Linked DNA regions of Homo sapiens. The protein of the gene in region 2 interacts with the protein of the main gene of each other region in a pairwise test. Each region holds a gene or a part of one and is shown on either strand. Other genes may lie near its edges. The genes, in order: MIS18A, MBIP, RAB5A, TXLNB, NDEL1, BFSP2 and PPFIA1.

The links.
Region 1: the proteins of MBIP (region 2) and MIS18A interact in binary tests that used the Homo sapiens proteins (3 or more experiments, as listed by UniProt).
Region 3: the proteins of MBIP (region 2) and RAB5A interact in binary tests that used the Homo sapiens proteins (3 or more experiments, as listed by UniProt).
Region 4: the proteins of MBIP (region 2) and TXLNB interact in binary tests that used the Homo sapiens proteins (3 or more experiments, as listed by UniProt).
Region 5: the proteins of MBIP (region 2) and NDEL1 interact in binary tests that used the Homo sapiens proteins (3 or more experiments, as listed by UniProt).
Region 6: the proteins of MBIP (region 2) and BFSP2 interact in binary tests that used the Homo sapiens proteins (3 or more experiments, as listed by UniProt).
Region 7: the proteins of MBIP (region 2) and PPFIA1 interact in binary tests that used the Homo sapiens proteins (3 or more experiments, as listed by UniProt).

Annotation. Positions count from the first base shown.
Region 1 is NC_000021.9:32,272,050-32,276,365, forward strand, and holds part of MIS18A (protein Mis18-alpha), read right to left. Parts: intron 2,848-4,316; coding exon 2,781-2,847; intron 1-2,780. UniProt on the Homo sapiens protein: Required for recruitment of CENPA to centromeres and normal chromosome segregation during mitosis.
Region 2 is NC_000014.9:36,306,482-36,310,797, forward strand, and holds part of MBIP (MAP3K12-binding inhibitory protein 1), read right to left. Parts: intron 1,709-4,316; coding exon 1,611-1,708; intron 1-1,610. UniProt on the Homo sapiens protein: Inhibits the MAP3K12 activity to induce the activation of the JNK/SAPK pathway. Component of the ATAC complex, a complex with histone acetyltransferase activity on histones H3 and H4.
Region 3 is NC_000003.12:19,974,271-19,978,586, forward strand, and holds part of RAB5A (ras-related protein Rab-5A), read left to right. Parts: intron 1-1,330; coding exon 1,331-1,482; intron 1,483-1,776; coding exon 1,777-1,899; intron 1,900-4,039; coding exon 4,040-4,133; intron 4,134-4,316. UniProt on the Homo sapiens protein: The small GTPases Rab are key regulators of intracellular membrane trafficking, from the formation of transport vesicles to their fusion with membranes.
Region 4 is NC_000006.12:139,281,759-139,286,074, reverse strand, and holds part of TXLNB (beta-taxilin), read left to right. Parts: intron 1-154; exon of another isoform or gene 155-193; intron 194-2,908; exon of another isoform or gene 2,909-2,971; intron 2,972-4,316. UniProt on the Homo sapiens protein: Promotes motor nerve regeneration. May be involved in intracellular vesicle traffic.
Region 5 is NC_000017.11:8,438,527-8,442,842, reverse strand, and holds part of NDEL1 (nuclear distribution protein nudE-like 1), read right to left. Parts: intron 1-4,316. UniProt on the Homo sapiens protein: Required for organization of the cellular microtubule array and microtubule anchoring at the centrosome. May regulate microtubule organization at least in part by targeting the microtubule severing protein KATNA1 to the centrosome.
Region 6 is NC_000003.12:133,465,514-133,469,829, reverse strand, and holds part of BFSP2 (phakinin), read right to left. Parts: intron 3,003-4,316; coding exon 2,871-3,002; intron 1-2,870.
Region 7 is NC_000011.10:70,370,874-70,375,189, reverse strand, and holds part of PPFIA1 (liprin-alpha-1), read right to left. Parts: intron 2,998-4,316; exon of another isoform or gene 2,979-2,997; coding exon of another isoform or gene 2,976-2,978; coding exon 2,800-2,975; exon of another isoform or gene 2,714-2,799; coding exon 2,616-2,713; intron 273-2,615; coding exon 97-272; intron 1-96. UniProt on the Homo sapiens protein: May regulate the disassembly of focal adhesions. May localize receptor-like tyrosine phosphatases type 2A at specific sites on the plasma membrane, possibly regulating their interaction with the extracellular environment and their association with substrates.

The DNA.
Region 1 (4,316 bases), on a different chromosome or scaffold from region 2:
ATCATCTTGTGGAGCAATGAAGAGATGGTAGCTAGTATTAAGGCAGCAACTTTCCGCTTTCACAGTTGGCAAGAATTTGGCCAGCATTCACCCCTTTCATTGAACAGTAACATTGAGAAGGCAGTGCCAATAATCGTAAGGTGATGTTAGACAAGGAATAATCCGATTGTTAAGATCCTCAACAAAGGACAAAGTCAGACTTAACAGAGAAAACAGCACTGGCACCTTCACAACATATTTCTAAAGCCCACAGTGCTCTTGCTGACCATCAGCAGAAAGGCTCAGGCAGGTATCAAAAAATTCACAAGCATCCCAAAGCAACACGGGAGTGTGCAGCACACAACCCTAGTGAAGTCCAAGACAACTGAAGGCAGTCTAATCGATGGGTTTAGGTGATACAAACAGTATTAATAACTCTGGATCAAAGAGAGTGAATTCTCTATCAATCCTGATTAGAAAAAAGAAGAAAGTCTCGGTTTGGTGCTAGACTGTCTTTGACACTTGTCTCATAGTCGCAAATCTTTTAATAGTAACAGAACAGACCTCAGGCAGAGAACCAGCCAGGCAACAACATCTCAGCTAGAACTAATAACATTTGTTTTCACTGTAATTATCTTCAGAGTTACTTTCTAGTTATGGCAAGTATGTATTTATGATAGTAAAAACAATCCTTTTAAGACAAATTTAAATAAAAATTTTGAGTTGATTTAATTTTAAAAATTTAGTATGTAATAGCACAGTTGGTACCTGGTACACAAATAGGACAAAAATGATGGTGATATCAAAATGGCTAGAGCTAGAGCTAGAAAGTGGAGAAGAAAGAGCACTTCGAAGGCAGTAAGGAAGGGTAACAAGCATCATCCTAGCTCTTACTGCTAATTAGTCCTGTGACCTTAGCAAAGTTCTAGCCTCCCTGGGCCTAACTTTCTTCAACTACCAAATGAGAAATGATCTGAGGTGGGTTTTCCAAATTTTTATGGCCTGCATGCCGGCACCACAATTTCTGTCACATCCACAAACCATCTGTACTATTACTAATTTATCTTAAATGGAGAAACTTTTTTTCTTTTTTTTTTTTTTTCACTTTTATGGAAGAGATACATAGGGCAAAGGTTACAGAAGGGGGACACAGAGCTTCCAAGACCTTTCTAGGTACACCACCCTCCCGGCATCTCATATTCACCAATCTGGAAGTTCTCTAAAACCCATGGGTTTTTTGGAGGTTTTATAACACAGGCATGATTAATTACACCATTGCTGATAATCTCTAGCCCCTCTGCCCTCGATGGAGGTAGGAGAAGAGGTTGGGGTAGGGCCAAAACTTCCAACCCTCTAATCATGCCTTGGTCCTTCTGGCCCCCAATCCTGAAGCTACATAGAAGCCCCCCAGCCACAGTCACCTCATTAGGATTAAAAACGACATTATTATCACTCCAGAGATTCCAAGCATCTTAGAAGCTCTTCTGTCAGAACTGGGGACTAAGACCAAACATGGTAACAAAAGATACCCTTATCACCCCATCACTCAAGAAATCGAAAGGGTTTTAGGAGCGACTAAGTATTGAATGTTTCTGTCCCCTACCACATGTATAAGTTGAAATGGTAGCTCCTAATGTGATGGTATTGGGAGGAGGGGTCATCAGGAGGTATTTGGTCATAAGTGCACAGAGTAATTTTTTTTAAATTGAAATATACTTTATTTGATAGGATACTCTAGCATCACTAAAAATGAAAAGCCAGTATTTTTAATACACATTAAAATATACACATAATTAATTTTTGTTTAACTGTGTACCACCTAAAGTTATTTCATACGCAAGTGTAAGATACAGTTTACATTTGCAGCAACAATTATATAGGGCAGCGCTTCCCACTCAGTTTGCTCAGGCGTCACTATGGCACATGGGTGGCAGGTATGGCAAGATATTTGTCCCCTCTACCCTTAAAGTGGCCACACAGGGCTTCAGATTGCTGGAGCTCCTGTGTTGTTTGCTCTTGCCACAAACAGCCTTGTCTGTTTACCCCAATAGGCTGTGTGTGTGACAGCAGCATTTTATGTGTGTGCCATAACATGAGAAAGTTGGGCAGCATTAGCCTAAGGCACCCTTTAACATTGAGATTTTATAATATAGGTATTTCCTTTTCTTCTTTTTTTTTTTTTTTTTTTTTTTTTTTGAGACGGAGTCTTTCTCTGTTGCCCAGGCTGCAGTGCACTGGCGATCTTGGCTCACTGCAACCTCCACCTCCGTAGTTCTAGTGATTCTCCTGTCTCAGCCTCTTGAGTAGGTGGGATTACAGGCCCGCACCACCATGCCCGGCTAATTTGTGTATTTTTAGTGGAGACGGGGTTTTGCCATGTTGGCCAGGCTGGTCTCGAATTCCTGACCCCCCGGTGATCTGCCCACCTTGGCCTCCGAAAGTGCTGGGATTACAGGCGTGAGCCACCGTGCCCGACCTTCTTTTTCTATTTTTATTTTTGATTTTCTTCAGCACCAAGCCCAAAGATCCAAAAAGGGAATGTCAGCATATGCTTTTAGAAATCTAGAAACTCTAACTTTTCAATATCTAAAGGTGACCACAACCACTCAAGAACTAACATATTCCTTTCTAAAACAGGATATAGAAAAAGCAAAAAAAAGAACTGATATATGCGAACGACTGATTTTTTTACTATCATGAAAAGTTTTATCCCAAGTAATCTTACTACTAGTAATGACCTTTTAAAGATTTTTATTAAAGAAAATTCTCTAACATATTCATATAAATACAGTTTTACTCACCAACCATTTTCCTTTTCACGTTTGGATAGCTTCTGTTCCTTATCCACAGAAACATTACAGGAAACACCTAGAAACAGAGAAAGTAACAATAATTTATTAATGTAGTTCGTTATAACATACCTGCAGACAGAGAGTTTCTAATCCAACTTTTTAGAACTCGGAGGACAAAAAATAAGCCCAAAGTCAAACACACAAAAGAGCGGTTTAAAACTAAATGTACTGGGGTCTTCTGGGAAAAGATAGCAGAATAAGAGTTATTTCCAACCAGGCGCAGGGACTCACACCTGTCATCCCAACCCTTTGGGAGGCCAAGGTGAGAGAATGGCTTGGGGCCAGGAGTTCGAGGTCAGCCTGGACAACATAACGAGACTCCATCTCTAAAAAAAAATTTTTAAATAAAAATTTAAGAAAAATTTTAAAAGGTTATTTCCTCCCTTTCCCTGAAAACCACTAACATTAATAGAATGGCTAAAATTAGAGGGGAAAATTCATTCCACAGTAAACTTGGAACAAGTAGAACCTCAAATCACACACTGCAAAGAATTATCTGCCAGATAGTGAAATTGGGTTCCAAACCTAGGAAGATGCAAACAGCCAACACATATATCTCCAGATTTCAAACACAGGGCCCATTTCTCTAAAAGTAACTGAGAGGGTCCTCAGGATCCCAGCCACACATCTTTTACTTGAACAATGACTTGGACAGAGGTCACTGCTGGACTTCAGAGGCAGCAGCAAACATTCCCAAAGAATCCAGCTCTAGGAAACACTAAAGGACAGGGTAGAGGGTGAAGAGAAATGAAGAAGGGACATCTGACCTAAAATGGCCAAAACAGACTCTTGATTTCACGGCCTCCTACAGTCTACCTTAACTCGGTAAACTCCAACTCCATCTACCTGCTTGCTGAAATCAGAAACCAGGGTGTCATCCTTGATTCTTTGTCTCCTCATCCTGCTCCCCTGTATCTACTCCACTGATCCATCCCATCAATTCTACCTCACAAACTTCACTCCAGCCCCCAAACCACCAGCACCACCTCTTGCCTGGACTACTGCCCTGGCTCTTCACTAACCTCCCCACTTCCATACTTGTTCCTCCTTCAATGCTTTCTCCAAAGAAAATGCGGGGTCACATTACTCCCCTGCCTAAGCTAGCATAATAACGTACTCACTAGAACAGATTACTACTCTTTAGAACAGACTACAACGCCTTGCAGTTTCTGATCTCTTCCTTCCTCCCTAAATCTTATCTTTATTCTCTTTAACCAGTCTCAAGGCTTTTGCACCAGCTGCTCAGCACCTGTCAAAAGCAAAGAGCGTGACCAAGAACTGTACCTGCAGCCAAGCTAGCATTCACTTATAAATACAGGAAAATAATCCCAGCACTTTGGGAGGCCGAGGCAGGCGGATCATGAGGTCAGGAGATCGAGACCATCCTGGCTAACATGGTGAAACCCCGTCTCTACTAAAGATACAAAAAAATTAGCGGGGTGTGGTGGCGGGAGCCTGCAGTCCCAGCTACTCAGGAGGCTGAGG
Region 2 (4,316 bases):
AGGCTGGTCTTGAACTCCCGACCTCTGGTGATCCGCCCACCTTGGCCTCCCAAAGTGCTGGGATTACAGGCGTGAGCCACTGCATCCGGCCTCTGTTAAGTTTTTATAAATCAGAATCAGAGAGAAGAGAGGAATGATGCTGCAGCAAGTTCTCATTGGAGGCATCTGATTTTACCATACTCTATTGTAAGATCGGTTCTATCGTTAATAAGAATTATATTAACAAGGTATGAAATTGAACTAGAAAAATAACTTTCCTAGGTTATTGCCTTCTTTAATGAAGGCAGTTAGAATGGGAAAAACTTATGGTAGACTACTGTAGGAAAAGTCATTAAAAATCTTTATGAAGTCTCCTAGGAAGACATTCAAAGAATAATCCTAAAAGTGAAAAGACCTTTGTAATTATGTAGTACAACCAATACATTTTCTAAAATTAGACATCTTGAAGATCAGAGGAATAGAGTGACTTTTCCACGTTTATACAGCTACTTTGTAGTTATAAAACTAAATAAATGCCAATGAGGTTTTTACCATGTGCTAAGCAGTATGCTAAGTGTTTGATCAGCATTATCTCATTTGATCTTTGCTTCAGCCCTTAGTATTTTCATAAACCTCATTTTACATTTGAGAGTAGTAAATCACTAAAACTCTTCTCTGAAATTTTGTCATTTAGGACTTGCTGCTCCCTTTTGTTACGTGACCTGCCTTCTTCTTCTGGAAATACTTCTTTTCTGTAACTCACTCTTATACTCAATCTATAACTTTGGAAGATTGCTGTCATACCTAAAATAAATTTTAAATATATTTTCACCACTAACTTATATGATCCATGCTAAAATGGGCTATCTCACATAATTTTTCAGAAATAGGAGTTTTGGTATAATCTCACTTTGATATTATTTTAGTTCTAATATGGTACTGCTTTAAAAAAAAAACAAAACTTAGAGAAGGCAGGTATTATACATAATCACCTCAGAAGACTGAGGAAAACACAATGAGCTCAGGATCATTTTTCTGAAAAATGTTGATGTGCCAAAGATACTAACTTACCAGCACAACACTGTTTCTTAAGGTTCTTGGAAAACGGGGTAAGAATGAATGAATGCTAGAGTTAAGGAATTACAAAAACATAGAAAGTCTGGTGGTTAAGGTAAAGAATAAGAGTGGCAGCTTGAGGTGTGTGTTTGTTTAGTATTAACTGCATATGAGCTGAGAGAAGGAGCCTGTTGGGGAAGAGAGATTAAAGAGGCAGAGGGATCACTGAAAGAGCAAGGTTACAGAGGAAGCCTCTGTTTTACAAGGTAGCAAGTTCAGAGTAACAGGCCCAACCACCACCCAGGCTGACTTACTATGCCATGAAAATGGCCTAAGTTTGAGAATGTGGGTAATATATAATAGAAGTATCCCTTTTTAAAAATTCTAAATTTTAAAAATATTCAGAACCAGAGATTTTAAGGAATTAGATATATCCCCTATACAGGACTGTGTTCATTCATCTTTGAATTATTAAAATAGTGTTTTGCTTATAGATCAATGAGTGACTGTTAAACCACAAAGAATCCAGAATACAATAACATTTTCATTTATTTTTAAAAGACACTTATACTCACTACAGACTGAAAATATTCAGGAGAGATGCCTTCCAATTCAAGGATTTTATCCTCAAGTTTTTTAATTCTCTGATAAATGTCTCTTGGCACTGGACCACCTAAATACATTAAAAAAAAATCTGAGATACTATTGAATAATTCTTTCTTTTCACAATTTTTATTCTTAAAATACCATGCAAAGACACTTATGCAAAGGAATGGAAAATACTTAAGAAAATAAAAAACAAAAGTAAAACAGAATGAAGTCCTTAGGTCGTATTTTTGTATTATACACTATCGGACATATTGTACTACACTTCCTCTCTCCAAACCCCATTTATGCTTCCTATATTCTAGGAGTTTCATGTTAAATTCATTTTACAAGATATTGAATAGCTTCCATGTAGAACAATTTATATTTCTGATATGCTTTGATAGTTACATGGGAGGACAAAAATGCATAGTGACAAATGACGATAATTCAATGCAGTGGTTGCAATATGTCATATTATTTTCTTCAATTAATATTTCTCCCTACATGCCATATTTTTCCTTTGACCTAAAAGAATGTAAAAAAGGGGCTTTACCATAATTCTAAACTAACAAACTTTCTGAGGAGGGGAAGAGTAAATTATGGCCACTCAAATTTTAAATTTATGATTATATCAAGAATCCTTCTACTTCTCACCCCCTCCACACTGTGGCCTTTCTGGTCCAGACCACTTCCACCTCTCCCTGGATTACTGCAACTCCCAAACTGGTCTCCCTGTTTCTGCCATGCTTCCGTAGAGTGTATTTTCAACACAGGAGCCAGTGATCCTCTAAAAATATAAGTTAGATCACATCATTTCTCTGCTTCCAATACCTGATCATTTCACTGAGGTTAAATACCTTCCAATACCTGATCATTTCACTCAGATTAAATACCAAAGCCCTCACAATGGCCTACAAGGCCATACACAATGTGGATATTCTCCCTATGCCCACATGGTTCCAGCCACTTGATTACTTTTTTTCTGTTATTCAAAGAGGCCAAGCACCCTGTAAGCTTCAGCTGGTTCCCTCTACCGCCATAATCCCAAGTCAATTTCAAGTCTTGGCTCAAAAGTTACCTTATCAGTAACACCTTCTCTGACTATTCTGTTAAAAATACCAGTACTACCACTCCCCTACCCAGCACTCCCTTATCCTCCTTACCTTAATTTTCTCCATTCCATTACTACCACCCAACATTCAGTATATTTTCTTTCTGTATTATTTGTTTCCCCATTCTAATATAAGCTCCAAGAGGACAGAGTTTTATCTGTTTTGTTCATTAGGTAGGGCTGTGCAGCTTGTGCACTGCACAAACCTAGGAAGCATCAGTTCATAAGACTACAATGCATGGCAAAGAGCTGGTGCTTGATATTTACTGACTGAATGAATACATGATTAGCCAATCATTATGCAATTAAAGAATACGGGTAAATTTCTATATCAAAATTGTCAACTTGTTATGTAAAAATTCTAGAAATTTTGAGGATTTTAAGAAATCTTAGGACCTTGGTTGTTCTTGTTCTTAAATAAGTTAACTTGTTCATTTGACTTTGCTTTTGCTGCTCCCTTTACCTACAATGTCCTCTGCCTTACTTCTGTATCTTTCAAGAGCCAGTTCAAGCTTCACTGGGTAACGCAGGCACTGCCGAAACCTCTTCATTCGCATAAAGGCTCCTTGTGCCCCCACCATTCTTCAGTGCTCCTGAGTTTTTTGGGACAGACTCTCACTATACTGTCCAGGCTGGTCTCAAACTCCTGGACTCAAGCTCTGTTCCCCACTCAGCCTCCCAAGGAACTGGGATTATAGGCACACACCACTACACCCATCCTTTCATTACTCCTTTAAAACTCTACTTCACTATTAATCTTTCTCTCATTTGGATTATAAAGTCCTTGAAGCTGGGGACTATGATTATATCATCTCAGTATCCCTTGTGCCTAAAATAGTGCTTGGAGCATAGTAAACATTCAACAGATATTTTTCCAAAAACTTAACTGTTTCATACTATTATTAGAGACTTAACCAGTCAATCCTTTTATACAGTGGCATTTTAAACCCATCCACTTCTGAGGGAAGAGATTAATTCTTAATGCCAGTGTCTTATTACTCTCAAAGACTTACTCATTCTGTTTTCTTCTTCTACCTTCATCTGGCTAGCATAGCTTCAGATAGCTAGTATACTCCAGCTATACTGGATTCAGATATCTCCTGAACCATATTTTGTGTTTTTGTCCTTTTTTGCAAATGGTGTTTCTTCTTTTTGGAATGCTTTGCTCTGGAAAATTCCTACTAATCCTTCAAGGCCTCAAATGTCACTTCATTAGGATGCCATCATCCCTTGACCTACCCTGAGAGAGTCAAACACTAACTTTCTGTCCCTCCGTACATACATCTGCAAAGGTGAAATAAGCAACTGTCCATTCAATAAACATTTGAGCACTTGCTTTGTGCCAGGCACTGTAATAGGTACAAAGAAATGAATATGACAGACATAGTTGCACTCTCACGGACTATCTAGCAGGAGACAGACATTAAACAAACAGAACCATGATAACTGCTTTAAAGGGGAGCAGGGAATACCAGGTGCTATATAAGATTATACAAAAGGTGAATCTGCACTGGTCTAGGATTAGGAAGAAAAAGCATGGACAGAAGGGCATGAGTATAAAGATCCTAAAGCAGCACAACGA
Region 3 (4,316 bases), on a different chromosome or scaffold from region 2:
CAGCCTCCCGAGTAACCGGAACCACAGGCAAGCGCCACCATGTCGAGCTAATTTTTGTATTTTTAGTAGAGACAGGGTTTCACCATGTTGGCCAGGATGGTCTTGATCTCCTGACCTCGTGATTTGCCTTCCTCAGCCTCCCAGAGTGCTGGGATTACAGGCATGAGCCACCACGCCTGGCCTATAATGCTACTTTCCTAGTGTTAAAATTAGAATCAGGGAAAGTACAGATCCAAAAAATTCTTATGGCAGGGAATGAAAGGTAGGAGCAAATATTGAATCAACTGAACAAATTAAATCTAGGTTAAGGTAATAATGACTACCACAATTAAAGTGTCACAATGTTTTAAAAAATAATATAGCAAGAGGCCTGGTACGGTGGCTCACGCCTATAATCTCAGCACTTTTGGGAGGCACTCCAGCCTGGGAGATAGAGCAAGACTGTGTCTCAGAAAAAGAAAAAAAAAGATAATATAACAAGAAATACTAATTTGGTGGTAACTGACTGGGACTAAATTGCCAGTGTGCGCCAATAAAAACTAGTAAAATGGAACAGGACATGGTGTCAGCAGTATAGATGGTACTTTTAGGCACACTGGGTTTCCCCCAACTTCATTTTTTAAGACTATCAGTGCATTTCTTTAATTGTAGAGCAATTTTGAAATGCAGTCTTCGCTGGGCTTGGTGGCTTACGCCTGTCATCCCAGCACTTTGGGAGGCCAAGGTGGGCGGATCACCTGAGATCAGGAGTTCGAGACCAGCCTGGCCAACATGGTGAAACCCCATCTCTACTAAAACTACAAAAATTAGCCACGTGTGGTGGTGCATGCCTGTAGTCCCAGCTACTCAGGAGGCTGAGGCAGGAGAATTGCTTGAACCCGGGAGGCGGAGGTTGCAGTGAGCTGAGATCACGCCCCTGCACTCTAGTCTGAGACTCTTGTATCAAAAAAAAAAAAAAAAAGAAGAAGGAAAAGAAATGTAGTCTTAAGTTTATTTAGTATTATAACAAGCTTTTTTAAGATGCAGAAGTTTTTCAATCTGTGATTTCACTACAAAGGCCCTATATGTAAGCATATATGTAAATAGCTTAGAAGCACAGGTTTGCCAGTATTTAAAGCTATTATCAGCTGTGGGTATGCAATCTGTCAAGTTTCTAGGTGTTTTCTTTTTTTTTCCCCCCTCATTTATTACTTTTAACTGACACATAATAGTTGTACATACTTACGGGGTACAGTGTGACATTTTGATAGATGTATACAAGCAGGTGTTTTCTATATTATGAAAACATTTGGAGAAAAATGATTGACTTATTGTAGTCCTTTTCTTTCAGCTGCTTTTCTAACCCAAACTGTATGTCTTGATGACACTACAGTAAAGTTTGAAATATGGGATACAGCTGGTCAAGAACGATACCATAGCCTAGCACCAATGTACTACAGAGGAGCACAAGCAGCCATAGTTGTATATGATATCACAAATGAGGTAAGTATGGATGCATTCCACAGTAAAACTAATTTGAGTACCCACTTTTGGTGTTCAGAATTTTGATTAAATGTTTTGGAAAATCTTTTTCTGATAGTCATGACCTTTCTGCTGAAGCTTTTGTGAATTAGAAAATCTGGTTTTAAAAAAAAACGAAAATGTCTCATAATACAATAGTCCTAATAATTTCTTTCCCACAGTCACTTGGGACAGTCTTTTAAAGCCTTGTATCACAAAGATGCTTGGTAACCATTTTTTGAGCCTGTGCTCAATGGCTGTTTCTTTGTTTAACAGGAGTCCTTTGCAAGAGCAAAAAATTGGGTTAAAGAACTTCAGAGGCAAGCAAGTCCTAACATTGTAATAGCTTTATCGGGAAACAAGGCCGACCTAGCAAATAAAAGAGCAGTAGATTTCCAGGTATGTTAAATTTAACTCTCATTTGAAAGGCACTTTTTTCCTGTATGTTTTTCTTTCATGTCAACACTTGAATTAGTTATAATGTCAAAACCATGCAAGTAATAGAAAATACTGATTTTTAAAACAAATATAAAGTACTACATATAATAAAATGTTTCTGATAAACCTAAATTTTTAAATAGATTATTGTAATATATAAACTGACCCAAAGATTTTGTAGACTTAAACAATAAAGGCCGGGTTCAGTGGCTCACGCCTGTAATCCCAGCACTTTGGGAGGCCGAGGTGGGTGGATCACCTGAGGTTGGGAGTTCAAGACCAACCTAACCAACTTGGAGAAACCCTGTCTCTACTAAAAATACAAAATTAGCTGGAGATGGTAGTGCATGCCTGTAATCCCAGCTACTTGGGAGGCTGAGGCAGGAGAATCTCTTGAACCCAGGAGGCGGAGGTTGTGGTGAGCCAAGATCACACTATTGCACTCCAGCCTGGGCAACAAGAGCAAAACTCCGTCTCAAAATAAAAAAGAAAAACAGTAAAAGTAGTCATTGTTCACAGTGCAGAAAGTGATTGTATCCTGCCCTAATTCCTCCATCCCACACATACTTTATGTCCTAACCCTCTTCTACTCATGTGCAAATATGTATCAGCACATGTGTGTACCCCACATATGTACATACGCAAACACTTATGTGGTTGTTCTTAAAGGGGCATTCAAACATAAAGGTTCTGCCAATCTGTATCCAGAGTTGGAAAATAATAAGCTAAAAACTAATAATTAAAAAAAATTTTTTTAAGGCTGAGAAAATCCAGTTTTGTATTACGATTGCTAATTCAGAATGTTTGCTGCTGCAAAATAGGCAAGTGCAATCACTTAAAAACAAAGCAAGTCCTCTATTTAGACTTTTTTTTTTTTTTTTAAGATGGAGTCTTGCTCAGTTGCCCAGGCTGGAGTGCAGTGGCGCAATCTCAAGCTCACTGCAAGCTCCACCTCCTGGGCTTACGCCATTCTGCTGCCTCAGCCTCCCAAGTAGCTGGGACTACAGGCGCCCACCACCACTCCTGGCTAATTTTTTGTGTGTTTTCAGTAGAGACAGGGTTTCACTGTGTTAGCCAGGGTGGTCTCGATCTCCTGACCTTGTGATCCACCCGCCTCCGCCTCCAAAAGTGCTAGGATTACAGGCGTGAGCCACCACGCCCGGCATACTTAGACCTTTTAAAACTGTGCCTGTTCTCTTGCTCTTTGGCTTCTCTACTAGAAGGGCGGTTGTGGCTGTTCTGTATATATCAGTGATGAAATAGTTTTCTTTTTTGATGACGTAGATGGAATCCATGTATTCTTGCATCATTAGGTATTAAGTTGGGCATGTTACATTTGTAATTTTATTTAATTCTTAGGACAACGATGTGAGATGTAGTATCCATTACTCTTTCCAAAATTGTTGCCTTCCCAGCACAAGAGTGGCAGAGAAAACACTTAAATTACAGTCAGAAGTGGCCCTGTCACATAACAGTTCAGAGGAACCTCAGTTGTTTCTTTGTCCAATGGGAAAGATCATTGGTTACCCCTCACAACAGCTATGAGGATCAAAAGTAATAATATATGTAAACTGTAAAAGCATGACAAAAATGTAGGGCAGTGATGTAATTTTCAAAGGAATGATTTATGATATATTCAAGATTATAATATTGCTGTAGAAGTCATTGAAAATTAAATATGAGGTTGTCATTTAGTGTTTGAAGCCAGTGTTAGATATTTGGTTTCCCTTTGTCTTCATTGCAGACAGTAAGTGCAAATAAAAATTGCCGTTGAGATCAAAGAGAGTTTTATTTAGAATAAGATAATTCTCCCCCATCTCTGGAACTCAGTATTTGAAAGCAGATTTAATGTAAGAAAAGATTAATCAAGGTGGGATAATGCAAGAATTTCAGACAAAAAAGGAAATAGTCCATTATAAAATTATCTTGCACAGTGCTCTTACCTCTGTTGTAGCTTATTATATAGTTGTTGATTATAGATGATTATAGGAATCAGGTTGTAGTAATAAGAAAGTCTCCTTTTCTATAACAAGTTTAAAGCAGGTGTAGTGTATTTCCAAGAGATATATCTCATATATCTCATTTTTTGTTCTGTAAACAGGAAGCACAGTCCTATGCAGATGACAATAGTTTATTATTCATGGAGACATCCGCTAAAACATCAATGAATGTAAATGAAATATTCATGGCAATAGGTAAGATTAATATCTCTTTTTAAATGATCAATATAAGCAAAACAAGTGTGAAGCATATTTGGTTTGACTGTCTCTTTTTTAAAAAATTTTTGGGGGTGGGTTTGTGTGTATGTTTATGTGTGTGTGTGAGAGAGAGAGAGAGATTATACCACTTTTCTAAGTCCCTTCCACAAAACAATATTT
Region 4 (4,316 bases), on a different chromosome or scaffold from region 2:
TCTCCTACTGAGTGAGAGGCCAAAGTTCCCCTACAAATATGACAAGGCCACTGAAAGATAAGAAATAGAAAATGTAAGCCAAAGGGAACAAAATCTGACAAGAAAACACAGGCTAGGTGGTATTTTCGAAACTGATAGAGGCCTCTCGTGGGTAAAATCTCTCTCGTGGGTAAAGTCACTTTCCCCTTGGCATCTGAAATGAAAGAAATGAAAACAGATTTCCCATTATGCAGCCCACAATGACTGGTACCAGTCCGTGGCCTGAGGGTTGGAGATATCTGCTGCAGAACACCTTGGTATGGAGGAGTCAAACATTGGTCATCATGGCAGGTTTGCTTTACGATGGCATCACTCTTGCCATGCAAGGGGCTATTTTCCTACAGATATCGCTATGATGCTAAAACCCATTGCTACAATGCTTTCAAGAAGGCCTAAATAATACATTCAGGTAGCATACTTCACCCAACTAGGATAAAATTAAAAGAACTCAGATAATAACTTTTAAGTATCTTCAAGTTCCAAAGTGCAGGGTTGGAATCACTCTAGTGTTTTGGAACATGGAAAAACATAATAAAATTGCTCTGTGTTACAGAGCAATTTTTTCTTCTCTGACAAAACATCTCAAATGTGTCCCTTTGCAAAGTTAGTCATTATTCAAGTTTCCGTAAGACAATATACAAAATCTCATTCCAGAGGTAAGCAACTTCAAGTGTTCCTAACCAGAAAAGTTATTTTTCAATCACCCTAAAACTTTTACATAAGAATTGGGGTGTGTGTGTGTGTGTGTGTGTGTGTGTGTGTGTGTGTGTGTGTGTGTTGAGGGGAAAGATATGAAGAAAATAGGGATAAAGTTAAAATAACCAATTTGGGTTTCTACTCTCTTCCATGAGTTATTTCATAATCTGCATTAACCTTACAATTACCAAATAGTCAGGATGATGTTTTTAAAAATTCCAACTCCCTAATTCTGCCGCTATTTACGATACCAAATTCCAACTGACTGTGTTTGACCAAAATCAATGCTTGTGGATTAGAGTACCTAGGTGTGTCCACTCTAATTGAGTATGTGTGGGCTCATGACCTTTCTGTGCCTTCCCACTCATCATCATTAGCATATTATTTTAAACACTGTACTATTTAACAGCTACATTATGCATGAAAACAACATTTTTAGGCTAACCTCAACTTGTAACCACCATTTTAAACTTTCAGTTGTTTGCAAGTAGCTTTGGCAGCCTTCTTAGCTACTTTTCAGTTAAATGGTACTGTGCTATCGTCTAGACTAATGGTTTTCCAACTTAACTGTTTATTAGAATCAATTGCAAAATTTGTGAAAAATGCTCCTCCTGAGCCCCCACACACAGATATTTGGAGTTTGTAGGCCTGGAGTGAAGCATGATCTAGTTTCTCAGTTCTTTGAACATGCTATACGCCATCTCCCACAAGGCCTGTGCACATTCTAGTTTCTTTGCCTAGAAATTTCTACCTATCCTCACGTCCTCAATGAGTACTTATTTATTTATTTTTATTTATTTACTTTTTTTCTTTGAGACAGAGTCTCACTCTGTTGCCAGGCTGGAGTGCAGTGGCGCGATTTCGGCTCACTACAACCTCCAGCTCCCTAGTTCAAGCGATTCTCCTGCCTCAGCCTCTCGAGTAGCTGGGATTACAGGCATGTGCCACCATGCCCAGCTAATTTTTGTATTTTTAGTAGAGACGGGGTTTCATTGTGTTGGCCAGGATGGTCTCGATCTCCTGACCTCATGATCCACCCGCCTCGGCCTCCCAAAGTGCTGGGATTACAGCCGTGAGCCACCGCACCCGGCCCACAATGAGTATTTATTAATGCCTAGTCTTTATGATGCACTGTGCTAGGTGCGCAAAGATAAATAAGTCATGGCCTTTAGTCAAGGATCTCTAGGTAGAGAGGAAGAAGAAGACACATAAGCTAATTGTCATATAGTGTAAGTGCAAGAGCAGGAACAGGAAAATTTTTAGGCGAGCATGGGAGATGTTCACCCTGGGTAATTTTGACACAGATTGTGGAAGCAATGGTTCTGATTCTTCAGAAAGTGTTTTCTCTGCTCTTTTGGAGAAAATATAAACATCTGGCTGTGGTCTCCTTTTATAACCTATTTGGACCTCTTAGAGAATTTTAATAAGTCATTCAACCCATATCTGAAGATATATTCTTAGATTTTGCTTATGTACTTGATCAAAGATGTCTTTAATCATTGTATTTATTAGATGCTATTTGCTTTATTGGCACATTTGAGATGCTAAAATGTTTTGACTCTCTACTACAACATTTTCCAAAGTGTGTCTACTTTGGGATGCTTGAGATTTCACAAAGTTAAACAGTTTCTTTACTGCCAGAATTCTCTGACCTTTACTGTATACACAATGAAGATCTAAAATAGTGATGGGCATAGTTTCCATCATTTCCAAAACTTATTGACTGATTGGATCTATGAGAGACATTTTTTTTTTTTTTTTTTGAGACGGAGTTTCGCTCTCATTGCCCAGGCTGGAGTGCAATGGTGCGATCTCGGCTCACCACAACCTCCGCCCTCCGGGTTCAATCGATTCTCCTGCCTCAGCCTCCCAAGTAGCTGGGATTACAGGCATGTGCCACCACTCCCGGCTAATTTTGTATTTTTAGTAGAGACAGGATTTCTCCATGTTGGTCAGGCTGGTCTTGAACTCCCGACCTCAGGTGATCCGCCTGCGTCGGTCTCCCAAAGTGCTGGGATTACAGGCATGAACCACCACGCCTGGCCAAGGCTTTTTTTTTTTTTTTTTTACAGAACACCTTGAATATTTGGGAAATGTCTCTACAACCTAAGCTCCCAGGACTTCTTTTTCCTTTTGAGGCTGCACTTTCTCCTACAATAAACGCAGTACTTACCGGAGCAGTTGGGGGAATATTTAAAAATCTCTCTCGTGGGTAAAGTCACTTTCCCCTTGGCATCTGAAATGAAAGAAATGAAAACAGATTTCCCATTATGCGGCACCATGCCAAGTTCACATCTAAAGTATCCCCTTTGTTCTCCTACTCGCATCCTCCAGGCTCAGAGGTATCTCTCATTTATCACTTCTTTGACAACATTATGTGGGCTGGGAGAAAAACAAAGCTCATTCACAGGGCTATTCTGAGCTCAGAATCCATCTAGTCAACCTACTAATTTTATAGACAGGGAAATTGAAGCCTAGGGAGTTTCAGAATCCACCAAAAAATGTTACTCATCTAGTTGATGTGATTGTGAGATTAGTCATAAAGCAAGGGATGGACTTTGTGTCACTGACATCGCAGGACCAAAGTGGTACAGAAGCAAGCATCATATTGGTTAAGGAGCATTTATTACACCTCAGTTAATGAATTTTGTCTTTCTAGTTACAAGTGAGCTTCAGTGGTACCTTCTGAGAGGCTCCTGACTAGGACATCAGTATTCTGAAATGTCTTCAGACATCCATTTACATAGTCTTCCTTTATTTTTTGAGACAAAGTCTCACTCTGTTGCCCAGGCTGGAGTACAGTGGTGCGATCTCAGCTCACTGCAACTTCCACCTCCCAGGTTCAAGCGATTCTACTGCCTCAGTCTCCCATGTAGCTAGGATTACAGCCACGTGCCACCATGCATGGCCAATTTTTATATTTTTAGTAGAGACGGGGTTTCACTGTGTTGGCCAGACTGGTCTCGAACTTGTGACCTCAAGTGATCTGCCCACCTCACCCTCCCAAAGTGCTGGGATTGCAGACGTGAGCCACCGCGCCCGGCCCCTAGTCTTCCTTTGAACGGTCCGGTCACTCTCCCAGATAGTCTGTTTCATCTGTTTTAGCTTGATTTCTAGTTTCTCTGAGAGAGTAATAAACTGCAGCTTTGATATTTTCTGAAGGAGATGGTATTTTCTGAAGGAGACTAAATTTTCTGAAGGAGATGATAAGAAGACCAGAGAAATTCAAGGGAAAGAGGAATAAGCAGAGACAAAGCTTGACAGGTAGATTCATAGAGAAGCTAGAACCTAGACCAGACCTTGACAGGGAGGAGAGTTTACAGAAGCAGATGGAAGGGGAGAGAAAAGCCTTGAGGAAAATTATTAGTACTCTCTTCTGACCAAGGTAGGGAGTGGATGGATGAATATTTTACTGTTTTTTCTAATATTTTTATTTTTGTTATTGGTAATAGTGTATACACATCATCACTGTTGACCTAATAAGAACTCCAGGGCCGGGCGCGGTGGCTCACGCCTGGAATCCCAGCACTTTGGGAGGCCGAGGCGGGCGGATCACGAGGTCAGGAGATCGAGACCATCCT
Region 5 (4,316 bases), on a different chromosome or scaffold from region 2:
ACTCCAGCCTGGGGGACAGAGCGAGACTCCGTCTAAAAATCTAAAAAAAAAAAAAAAAAAAAAAAGTAAATAAATAAAAACCTGGAGATGCATAGAACTTGGAGTTTATCTAGCACAAGCCACTCAGGAAGGTTTAGCAAAAAAAAAAAAAAATCTTTTTAAAGGAATGAACGGTTAAATCTCTCCACATCATCAAACATAGAACACAGTGGAAGTTCAATAAATATTTGAATTGAGGCTGGACACGGTGGCTCATGCCTGTAATCCCAACACATGGGGAGGCTGAGGCAGGAGGACTGCTTGAGCCCAGAAGCAATGAGGCTGCAGTAAGCCATGATTTTGAGGCTGCAGTGAGCCATGATTGTGCCACTGCACTCCAGCCTGGGCAACACAGCAAGACCCTGTCTCTAAAATAAATAAATAAATATGTGAACTGATTTATAATCATCCTTTCAATATTCCCTCTTGACTTTCAAAGTACCACTTTATTAACATCTGAATTCCTACTTCAGGAATGGAGTAAGCAAAAAGATGTGCGGGTAGTTTACTTCCACCTTACAATGTACCACCATATATTAAATCAATATTAGAAAACCTATCATTATCAGTTAGACAAAATTATTAATCCGATACATGGGCAGCCACATTCAGTCACTGACATAGGCTCAGTACAGGCTCCACATCAAAGAATAGGGAGTTGATGGGATTTATTGGGAAGAACCTTAGAGATAACCACTGCACACTAGCTACCTCAAATCATCATTATCCGGCCCTGAAATATAAATGGACAACCAAGAGCCATCTGACAAGTAAGAAAACCCAGTAGCATGAATAAGAAAATTTTAGGACCTAGTGAACTGAGAGGAAACAGACAATTCAGGAAATGAGATTTTTTCTTATACAAGAACTCAGAAGGTACTAGACAAAGACTTAAAAAAAAAGGTCAGGAGGGCTACCTCCTACACACTTCCTGAGACAAGTACAAAAGAAGGGAGAAAACCATGACCTGGACAGCATGGGATGCAGGAAATAGGGGCTCCAACCTAGGGCTGCAATGAAAAGTCCCAGGATGAAGCCTAGTCCATCAGGCCCATAGAATGCTTCAGACGGATGACACCAAGAAAAATAAGGAATCCCATAGAACAGATAGCATAGAGCACAAGTGAGAAGCTAGATATATTTGAGGTTGTGGTGAAGACATGTTACTCTACTGTCACTAAGAAAAAGAGAAATTTAAAAGCTCAGGAAAATAAAAAAAGCAATAGAAGAAAGTCCTGATCCTTATATAAAGCATTTTGTAAGTTAATGATTTCAAGTCTAAAACTTGTAATGTATTGATTTTATCTTATTTGAAGCAACTGGGATAAGTTCCATAACTTTATAGCCATCGATGAACTTCCTGTTTTTGGTCTTAGCTTTGCCCTGAGTCCCATGTGCTGCTCTCTTGGAAGGTTCCAGGATTTGGCGAACAAAATTGTATTCTCCTTTTTTATGTCCCCTCTGGTTTTGTAGCCTTTGATGATAATACCTCTCAGCCTTGGTCTTCCCAAAGTGATTATTTCTTGCCTTTTTAGCCTATAATGATTTGGCAGCCATCTCAGTCCCTTAAATATTTTGTTATGCTTTGTATTGCCCCTAGATTACCTATCTGCCTTTCTGGGGCTGAGTGCCTAGTGCTGCTTCTGTACTGAACATTTTATTCACTGGTCAGATCATTTTTCTTTTGAGTTTTCAGTACTCTTTCTGTTACTGTGCAGCATTTGATGATATTGCTAGTAGTGTGGCCCATGAACCGGTATCATTATGGAAGTTCCTAATGACTGTTAGATACCTTCCTTGGCATCTAACATTTATTTGAAGGTGTTTGAATGTGGGGCCAATTCTTCTACGAAAAGAGTTAGGATTGTTTTGAATCTCTAAATGTTATTCAGGAGTCCACTTCAAAACATTTCCATGTGGGGGTATTTTTTGTTGGTTTTGACCCATTTATATAGTATCAGAGGACATACTAGCAGTTAATGCTTTGAAGAGCACCTAGTTAAGTAGTAATCCCTGAGGAATAGCATTGTTTACCCCTCTGGATGTATTGCGAGTATCCATTTGTCTCTGACTTCTGGTTCTTGTACAGGGACATATTCTTAATACAACACCAACTTTTCCATGAGTGTCCCCTGATAACTCAGGTTTTTAAATAGCCTTTTGCATGAAACTTTTTGAGAATCTAGTTCTAGCCCTTGCATCCTCTTTGTCCAACTACTTACATTCAGTGTCAAGTAATTCTAGCAAAATTATTTTACTTCACACACATTCTTTTTTTTTTTTTTTTTTTGAGATGGAGTCTCACTCTGTTGCCCAGGCTGGAGTGCAGTGGCACAATCCTAGTTCACTGCAACCTCTGACTCCCAGGTTCAAGCAATTCTCTTGCCTCGGCCTCCTAAGTAGCTGGGATTACAAGCACCCACCACCATACCTGGCTAATTTTTGTATTTTTAGTAGGACACGGTTTCACCATGTTGGCCAGGCTGTCTCGAACTCCTGACCTCGTGATCTGCCCTCCTCGGCCTCCCAAAGTGCTGGGATTACAGGCATGAGCCACCGCGCCTGGTCACATTCTTTATTTTCTTGCTGAATCTCATGTGAATTGAATGTTGACCACAACTTTTCTAATCAATAGGCTATTTTCATAACCCGCTTATTGGCCCCTCTAACAGTATTATAACCTATGTTGGATATCATTTACTAAAAGGACCATCATCTCTTCCAGATCAAAACAATTTAAAACATTTAACCAAGAATAAGTCATAGGAGCAGCATAGCATAGTGGTTAAGAGCCCAGACCGGGAAGCCAAACTGCCCAAGTCTGAAGTCAGACCTGGAAGTTCAGACTCGCTACTGATGCATCTACTCACTACTTGGGTGACCTTGGGCAAGTGACTTAATGACTCAGTGCCCCATTTCCTCACCTGTAAAATGGGGATAATCATTAGAATGAGCTTATGAAGTGAGCTAATATTTGTAAAGTACTTAGGACAGAACCTGGCACATAGTAAAAACCTAAATGTTCATCAAGCTATTAAAAATTGGTAGTTCGATAGCAGACCTTTCAAGTATGACCACAAAGTAAACAGGCTTCAAAATTTAAAACATGCAAATGATTCTTTAAAACTGATCATTTCAGGAATATATGCATATTCCAGTGATATCACCATTGCTGAAAAACATTTCCAAAACTTCTTTTTTGGAATAGCCTTTATGAGCCACATTAAGAACAAAGCAGGCGAACAAAGCAGGCCAGGCGCGGTGGCTCATGCCTATAATCCTAGCACTTTGGGAGGCTGAGGCAGGCGGATCACTTGAGGTTAGGAGTTCAAGACCAGCCTGGCCAACATGGTGAAACCTCGTCTATACCGAAAATATGAAAAAAAAAAAAAAAAATTAGCTGGGTATGGTGGCCGGCACCTGTAATCCCAGCTACTCAGGAGGCTGAGGCAGGAGAATCGCTCAAACCCGGGAGGAGGAGGTTGCAGTGAGCCGAGATTGGCCACTGCACTCCAGCCTGGGCAAAAGGGTGAGATTCCATCTCAAATAAAAGAAAAAAAAAAAGGCCGGGCACAGTGGCTCACACCTGTAATCCCAGCACTTTGGGAGGCCGAGGCGGGCGGATCACGAGGTCAGGAGATTGAGACTATCCTGCTAACATGGTGAAACCCCGTCTCTACTAAAAACACAAAAAACTAGCTGGGCGTGGTGGTGGGCACCTGCAGTCCCAGCTACTCGGGAGGCTGAGGCAGGAGAATGGCGTGAACCCGGGAGGCAGAACTTGCAGTGAGCCGAGAGCGCGCGACCGCACTCCACTCCAGCCTGGGTGACAGAGAGAGACTCCGTTTCAAAAAAAAAAAAAAAGAACAAAGCAAAAACTTCTTACTTTGTGGTCACACCTCATCTTTATTGCTTCCTAACTGGTATTATCCAGCTCTATTGCCCTACTTTTACCCATCAGATTTACTCTTTTTAAAAATCAGATTCTGGCCAGGCACAGTGGCTCGCGCATATTAATCCCAGCACTTGGAAGGCTGAGGTGGGAATGTCAGTTGAGCCTGGAACTTCAAGGCCAGCCTGGACAACATGCTGAAACCCCATCTCTAACAAAAATACAAAAATGAGCTGGGTGTGGTGGCATGCACCTGTGGTCCCAGCTACTCGTGAGACTGTGGTGGGAGGATCGCTTGAGTCCAGGAAGTTGAGGCTGCAGTAAGCTGTAATCACTCCACTGCACTCCAGCCTGGGTGACAAAATGAGACCCTGCCTCCAAAAAA
Region 6 (4,316 bases), on a different chromosome or scaffold from region 2:
AACCCCAGCCAAAGGTTATATGTGTCTTCCATCTCACCCTTAAAGTCCGAATCCAGCTTCCCCACCTAAGTCCCTGACATTATGGCAGAAAGAGAGGATGCCTGGTTCTCCCAGAGATGCTTGAGCTGGAGTGACTATGATCAGGCTACTGTTGCAGGCAAGTACACTGGCTCAGTCAGCCACGCAGACAGCACCAGCAAACAAGCTGAGATCACAGAAGCACACTTATTCTGCAGGTCTCTGGAGATTTGAAGGGACTTTCTGGGATTGCAAAATCCTCCAGAAAGTAAAATAGTGACCTTCTGTGACTTCTGGCCTTGAATTCCATTCCTGATTTGAGTTGACTGGACACAGAGTTCAGCAGGTCTCAAGCACCATTATTTGTGCCTAGCTTCCAATGCAAATAGTGCCTTATTGGCAAAGGGGGCCGAAAGTCTCGCCAGCTTGGCTGTCTGAAGCTTATATAAGCTGCGGGGGCCTTGTGTGTGCACAGATCGCTCTGACAGAATAACAGGAATGGCTGGATGAACTTCCTGTATCTGAAAACTGTATGAGAGTTTGTTACCTATTTTGTCCCAATCTGTGCTCCTCACCTTGGCTGCAAGGCCCCGTGACCAGAACGATAATCTACTAGAACCAGCAGGGAACAGAGGCAGCCTGTTCTGGGCTATGGGCATAGACAGAATGGCACTACTCTGAAGTTTTCTGGTTGAGAGTGTAAATTATTTTTCCATTTTTTTCCCCAATGGTTAGGACCCTGGGTTTAAGTGAGGTGACCAGGTGGCTGGTGATGCCAACTTGGAGTTACTGTACTAGTAGCTATTATAGCAATTTTATATGATAATTAATAATAGATGGCATTTATTGACTGCTCACTAACTGCCAGGCACTGTGCTAAGGGCTTGACATACATTATCAAATTAATCATCTCAATGACGTTATGAGGTAAATTCTATTACGATCCTAAAGTGGCTCACACTTGCATTGGCAGCTACAACAATTATCTCCACTCCACAATCGCTTTCTCAATGTGACCTTGCCATTGTCTCATCAAGAAGTTGAATTTATTTCTCTCCCTGTTGAATCTAGGATAGTCTTGTGACTGCTTTGACCACTAGAATGTGGTATAAGTGATGTCCAGAGACTTTCGAGCCCAGGTGTTAAGAGGCCTGGTAGCTTCTGTGCTCACTCAGGTGCTATATCAGAAGTTTGACTATGTCAGGCTGTCATGATATGAGGAGGTCTAAGCTAGCTACACGGAGTGGTCACAGGGAGAGAGAAAAAGAGATGCACAATTGAGTCACCAGAGAAGCTAAATGAAGAAGCCATTTTTGGGTGTTCCAGCCCCAGCAGAGGCCACATGATACAGAGAAGAGTTATCCCTGCTGAATTCTGCCTAAATCACAGAATGAGAGAACAAGTGATTCACTGTTGTCTTAAGCTACTAAGACAGTAACTAGATATGATAGCCAAAATAGATCCTCACTTTACAAGTGAGAAAATGAAAGCTGTTCATTCACATAGCTAGTGAGTGAGGAGAGCACCCACCACGAAGTCTACCTCCTGACTCCCACAGCAGGGGTGCTCTCTCCCATCTGCCCCTCCCTCACATTTGTATCAGCTCCTCCACCGAAGCCACATTAACTCTTTGGAGGCAGGGACCATATCTCATTAGTTTTATGTCTCCAAAGCACTTGGTACAGTTCTAGGAACATAGCAAGTTCTCAAAATAATGCTAAGAGTCAGAAGAGCATGCTCATGTGCATCCACACATTGGATCCCCCTAGAAACACTGAGAAGTGGGCTGGACTGTGACTATCATACCCATTTTGCAGAAGAGGAAACTGTGGTTCAGGGATTTGCCTCTTTACCCAAGGGATAAATGGAGGAGCTGAGCCCTTCTGACTCTATTACTCTTGATTTTCCTCCCCTCAGATCCTCAGATCCTTTTCTTATACATGCTTGCACGGACCTACATCCTATCATGCGCCTCATTGACTCCAGGCCATCTCAGCTGCACAAGGATTACATGGACCAACCTTTGATTTGCACCAACGAAGCTGTAGTTAGAACAATGCAAATGACCTCCTGGAGGGGACATCTAAGAAAAGATGTTTAATACCCAAATAGAACTTCAATCCATTCCAGAGATCAGAGGGTGGATTGCTTCATTATTAATACATTTTATTATTTTAATATTTTAATAAATAATTAATAATGAAAGAGACGAGCTTGCAAATCCCAGTGAGTCTGAGAGCTTACTAGATGTCTCAGGTTGGGTTCTCCAGAAGCAGAGCCTGAGTTAGGGATCCTGGAACTCGCAAATCATTAAGGAGTACTCTCAGGAAAAGGGGGAGTGAGGAAAGCAGGACAGGGCAGAGGAAGGCACTAAGCGAGGATGTGGTCTCTGGAATCTGGCTACAGCCTGGTCCTATGGAGAGCTCTATAGCATGGAGCTAGCTCCATGTTGAAGCAAAAGGGCTGGGCTTTTAATTTTAAAGCCCCCTCTTAGTCACTGGCTGAGCCTTGGGGGGCAGGGCCTAACCTTCTGGGCCAGGTGTCCTCAGTGTGGGTAAGGGCAGGTCTCTGGAGCAGTGGGGCAGCTGAAAAGGGGCGGCTGCAGATGTTAACAGTCAACATTTACTGCAGCAGCCTGGTAAGAGATATTTCCGTGGGGCACTACAGTGTCTATTGCACCTGCTGTGATTCAGTATCTGATGATCCTTGGGAGTCAGAAGACATTTCAGGCCTCAAAACTCATATGCTGTGAGATGGGAATCCCCTGGAAACTAAGATCCATAATACTGGAATTTGACAGTAGAGAGTTAAAATTAGCACAAGGACACCAGGTCTTTCCTTGGCCCACTTACCAGGGCACGTAAGGATTCTGTCTCAGCCTGGAGGCTCTGGACTTGGCACGAAGTGTTGTGTAACTCCACCCTGAGGGCAGCTGCCAGCTTCTCCTCCTGGGTCTGGGACATGTGGGCCACCTCCGCCTGTTGCTGTGGAGAGTCAGGTCTCAGTGTGAGCGGTGATGATCAGAAATCTGAGCCCATCCTTCCTTCCCAGCCTTTCTAATCACCACTCCACTGCCTCTAACCAGAGGAAATACAGCTGTCACGTGGAAACATCTTTTTTTTTTTTTTTTTTTTGTTGAGATGAAGTCTCGCTCTGTAGCCCAGGCTGGAGTGCAGTGGTGCGATCTCAGCTCACCACAACTTCCTCCTCCTGGGTTCAAGCGATTCTCCTGCCTCGAGTAGCTGGGATTACAGGTACCCGCCACCAGGCCTGGCTAATTTTTTTTGTATTTTTAGTAGAGATGGGGTTTCACCATGTTGGTCAGGCTGGTCTTGAACTCCTGACCTCAGGTAATCCGCATGCCTTGGCCTCCCAAAGTGCTAGGATTACAGGCGTGAGCCACCACGCCTGGCTGGAAATGTCTTTTTTTTTAAACAGGTCCCTTCACCAACTTGTATACAAAAATGTATTTATTTTGAACATACGATGCCTGCAAATGAAATACAATTCAAAAGATTTCCTACAGACTATAAAGTCTCATTTTCTCCTGTGTCTTAATTATCCAGTTCTCTTGTTTCTAGTTTCTTATTCCTCTTTCCAGAAATAGTTTATATATTTATAAATAAATATGTATTGCCCCCCCCGTGCTTTGGTACTTAAAGTATCTTAGAAATTATTCTATATCAGTACATATTAGGTTGGTGCAAAGGCGATTGCAGTTTTCGCCACTACTTTCAATGGCAGAGACAGCAATTAATTTTGCACCAACCTAATAGAAATTGAGTACATTCTTTATAGCGGCTGCACAGTGTTGTCTTGTTTGGAAGGGCTGCAATGTATTTAGAAGTCTCTGCTGGTGGACACTCAGATTGTTTCTAGTCTTTCTTTCTCTATTACAAACAATGGTGCAAAGAAAAAGCTTTGATCCCTTATTTTTCATACAAGAGCATGTCTTTGAGAAAGTAGTTCTTGTAGTAGAACTGCTGATTAGAAAGGGTATATATTTTTAATTTTGGTGAATAGTGGCAAATTTCCCTTCGGAAAACTTGAAATCCATTTCAGCATTGTAAGACAGTGCCAGTTGTCCCATACCGCCCTCAAACCAGGAGTTATCCAACTTGATCTCTGTCAATCTGATAGTGCCTGTTTCCTTGTGAAAACCATGTGTCTAGTCACAACTGTGACCCAGACAAAGGGAAGCTCTGTGTTTTTAACTTCTCCCCAGAGCAAGATGGACAGAGTCTGATCCCTCCCCATATATTCAGGGGAACAGGTCATTGTTACTCCTCTGTTCTGGG
Region 7 (4,316 bases), on a different chromosome or scaffold from region 2:
TTTTTTTTAAAGTTTCTTTCTATTCGAATAACTAGCTGTCTATAATCAGGGTGCCAACTGAACAATGAGTGCAGACACAGACAGGTTTGGCGTCACCTGTGTGTTCTGCGTCGGGATCTGTAACAGCAGTGCCAGTGCACTGAAGTCGAAGGTTTCATCTAAGGCCAGAAGTGCTCCGTGAACACCACTCTCTATAAGATTGTTTGCATATTCTTTAAGGCCAATTGACAGGATCCAGCGAATCACTCGATCATTGCTCCAAACAAGCACGTCTGCAAAAGAATAAAGACAATTATAAAAGTGGCTTCAGAAAGCCATCTTTATCACATGTACCCTGTAATGCAGGAGAAAGATTCCTACCATGGTTCCTAATCCTTCGGCTCCTGAGAAAAGTGCTGGGAGACACTGCTAAATAGACAACCATTTGCTGCACTGAGACAATGGTGTCCTGGCCCTGCTCCACTCTCAGGGAGACTCTCCCATTAGAACTCATCCTTCCAGTGAGCACGAGAGGAATGAAGTTATTATTTCTAGAGAAAAGAAGATGATGAGGATCCAGGGATCAGAAGCCAGAGGACTGCAAGAACTTGAATACCTAACATGTATAAACATGCTTCACACACAGACTGGAGAGTCTTCTGAAATACTTCATCACGGATGGAGCTGGCTCCATAATAATATGAACACTTTGCTCAATTCAACAGAAACCTCTCATTTCTAATCTCGAAGTCTTTGTCTCATTTTAAAATGAGAGAAACTTAACAATATCATCCAGCACATTAGAGACTTTGCAGAAAATCTTTTTTTTTCCTCTCTTTTTCTTGACAATGTCCTGCTCTGTCACCCAGGCTGGATACAGCCTGGTACCATCATAGCTCACTGCAGCCTCAACCTCCTGGGCTCAAGTGATTTTTCCCACCTCAGCCTCCTGAGGAGCTGGAACTACAGGCGTGTGTCACGAAGCTCAGCTAATTTTTTTGTACTGACAGGGTCTCACTATGTTCCCCAGGCTGGTCTTGAACTCATGGGCTCAGACAATACTCCTGCCTTGGCCTCCCAAAGTGCTGAGATTACAGGCATGAGCTACCATGCCCAGCCACAATATCTTATGCAAATTAACAAATTATTCAATTTGCTCTATTAGATCTAAAAATAGCCACTCTAAAAATATATGCAGATGATCACCAATCACTTCCAAAGACACTTCCAAAGATCTTTGTCTATTGGAAAAAGATGTAAAATAGATACAGAAAACAAAACAGATGGACATATTTCATTGCCAATGCCCTTTTCTGGATAAAAGTCCATACATATACACACACTGTATAAATGTCGACTTACGACTTTTCTCCTGATTCACATTAACTCAATCACAAGTAGACTTCCCTTCAACTGGGCCATCTCCCAACCATATTTTTATCCTTAGTTTCTTTCTTAGTATAAAGTGGGGATGAAAACAGCACTTAGACTGACAGGGCTAAGGTAAAGATGAAAGAAAGCAACCCCTGAGTACTTAGAACACCACCTGGCACCTACTCACTGTTAGTAAGACTGGCCTCTTCTTATCATTATTGTTATTGGTGACTTCCTTGCATTCCAGGAATTCTGGGAGTCATTACTCTGAGCTTAATGTTTACTGTCTAATTTTAAAAGCAAATTCTGACTGGGTGTGGTGGCTCACACCTGTAATCCCAACACTTTGGAAGGCCAAGGTGGGAGGATCCCCTGAGCCCAAAAGTTCGAGATCAGCCTAGGCAACATAGCGAGACCCTGTCTCTACAAAAAAAAAAAAAATTCCAGGCATGGTGGAGCACACCTGTACTCCCAGGAGCTACTAGGGAGGCTAAGGCAGGAAGAGCACTTGAGCCCAGGAGTTCAAGGCTGTAGTGAGCTGTGATCACACCACTGCACTCCAGCCTAGCCTGGGCTACAGAGCAAGACCCTGTCTCAAAATAAATTAAATAAATAAATAAACAAACAAACAAATAAATTTGAGTACGAGTGAGGGACTCCCCAACGGAGAAGAGAACCAACTCCACGTCTTCTGGATGAATGTCTCACATCCTCTAACGCCTCCCTGGCCTGTGTTTTCCAACTGAAATGCCTTTTCCTTACCCTAAGCAGCTCCTCCTCCTTCTTCAAGGACCAGCTGAAATGCAGACGCTGCCTCTCCTTCCCCTCCGGGAGCAGAACTGCACGGTGCTCTCCTGTTCTCCTGAACCCCTTGGATAAGCCCCCAGTCATATTTCTCACACTTGAATCATCAAGTGAGCTTTGCTCTGTTGTTATCTAACAGTGTGGAACAGCATTTCGGAGTGAAGGAGTACACAGGGCATGACCAAAGGAAAACTCTCAACTCACAGGAAACGACTAGCCGGAGACATTTAACCTCCAGACTGATGTGTGAGAACACAGGGAACAGTTCTCTAGCTGTGGAAGAGAATCTCAAAAGCACTCAACTTCATCCAGCCCTCCTCTGCAATGACACTAGACTAGTTAGTTTTCTCCACTTAAATTTAGCCTTTCTTGATTTTTTGAAAAATAGGAAGTCACTGAGGCTCCAAACACACCAGCAAGTAGGAGTAAACCGAATCAATTAAATGTCATGTACTAACCTTTTATTTCACTCTGACTTTCTTCTCTTTTTCTTTCCAGTTCTTTCCGGTCATAATTTAACCTTCTCAGGCACATAATTCCACACTGGAAACTGTTTCTATTTGGAAGAAAAGAGAGATGATTTAGAGATGGTAACAGTGAAAAATCTTAGCCAATTATTAAGAACTATCTCCATTAAGTTACCTGTGAAAACTGTCGACCATTTTCAGCTGCCCTCGAAGGTCTTTCTTGGTCAAGTGGTCCAGCATCCTGGCGTCTACAAGGCACTCCATGAAGTAGCTGCGGTACTGGGGGAGGCCCAGGCTGGGGAGCCACTCGTTGCCGATCCACTCGTGGTTCATGTCCCCATAGGCGAGTGTCTGCTTTTCATAAATGGAAAAGGTCAGTTACAGAGGAAGTCTCAAAAGTAGTTTATATCATTTTTAAAATGAATTTTTAATCTATTACCTATATTCTCAAAGGCTAAACTAATGATAATTTTATAATTGCAAAATAATTTGATCTCTTCTCACCTTTTAAATTTGTTAGTAAAATTTTTATACAACAGGAATAGTAACATGAAAAATATATGATTCGTTGTGATAAATTTAACTTTTAAATCAAACTACAAAAAAACTGTAACTGGCTATAAATTTCCTCTCTGAGATAGTTTTTAGTATAATAATGTGACAAAGATTGATCACGACTCATGAACAAGTTTGAAGGCTCAATTCAACACTGCTCACTAAAATTATCTCTGGTTGGTTTACATTTTAACACTTTGTTTTCCTAAAGAAAAAATCCATTTCAAAATCAGTAAAAGTCAGTTAAAATATAGTTTTAGAGAAGAGATAAAGCAACAACCAACAGGACTAAATGGGGAAACAGGCAAATTCACAATTATAGTTGAAAAAATTCAACACTTCTTTCTCATAGCAACTGATGAAAGAAGCAAAAAAAGAAAAAAATTAAGAATATAGAAAACCTAAACTAACAACCCTTAACAAACTTGACCTGACGTTTCATAGAACACACCACCCAACAACAGAATATAGAACACTCCACCCAACAATGGAATGTAGAACACGCCACCCAACAACAGAAGATAGAACACGCCACCCAACAAGAGAATACAGAACACGCCACCCAACAAGAGAACATAGAACACGCCACTCAACAACAGAATATAGAACAATCCACCAAACAACAGAATATAGAACACTCTACCCAACAACAGAATATAGAACATGCCACCCAACAACAGAATATATATGCTTTTAATGTCTGTATAGTATATTCTCAAAGACAGACAAATCTCAACATACTTAAAGAGACTGAAATCAAGGTACATTCTCTTGACTTCAACAGAAATTAGAAATCAATAATAAAAAGCTATCTAGAACCCCCTACTAAATATTTAAAAATTAGCATACTTCTAAATAATTCACAGCAAGAAATTACAAGGGGAAATTGCTCCCTCTGTCGCCCAGGCTGGAGTGCAGTAGCGCGACCTCGGATCACTGCAACCTCGCCTCCAGGGTTCAAGTCATTCTCCGGCCTCAGCCTCCCGAGTATCTGGGATTACAAGCACAAGCCACCACACCTGACTAATTTTTGTATTTTTAGTACAGACGGGGTTTCAACATGTTGGGCAGACTGGTCTCAAACTCCTGACCTCAAGTGATCCACCACCCACCTTGGCCTCCCAAACCGCTAGGATT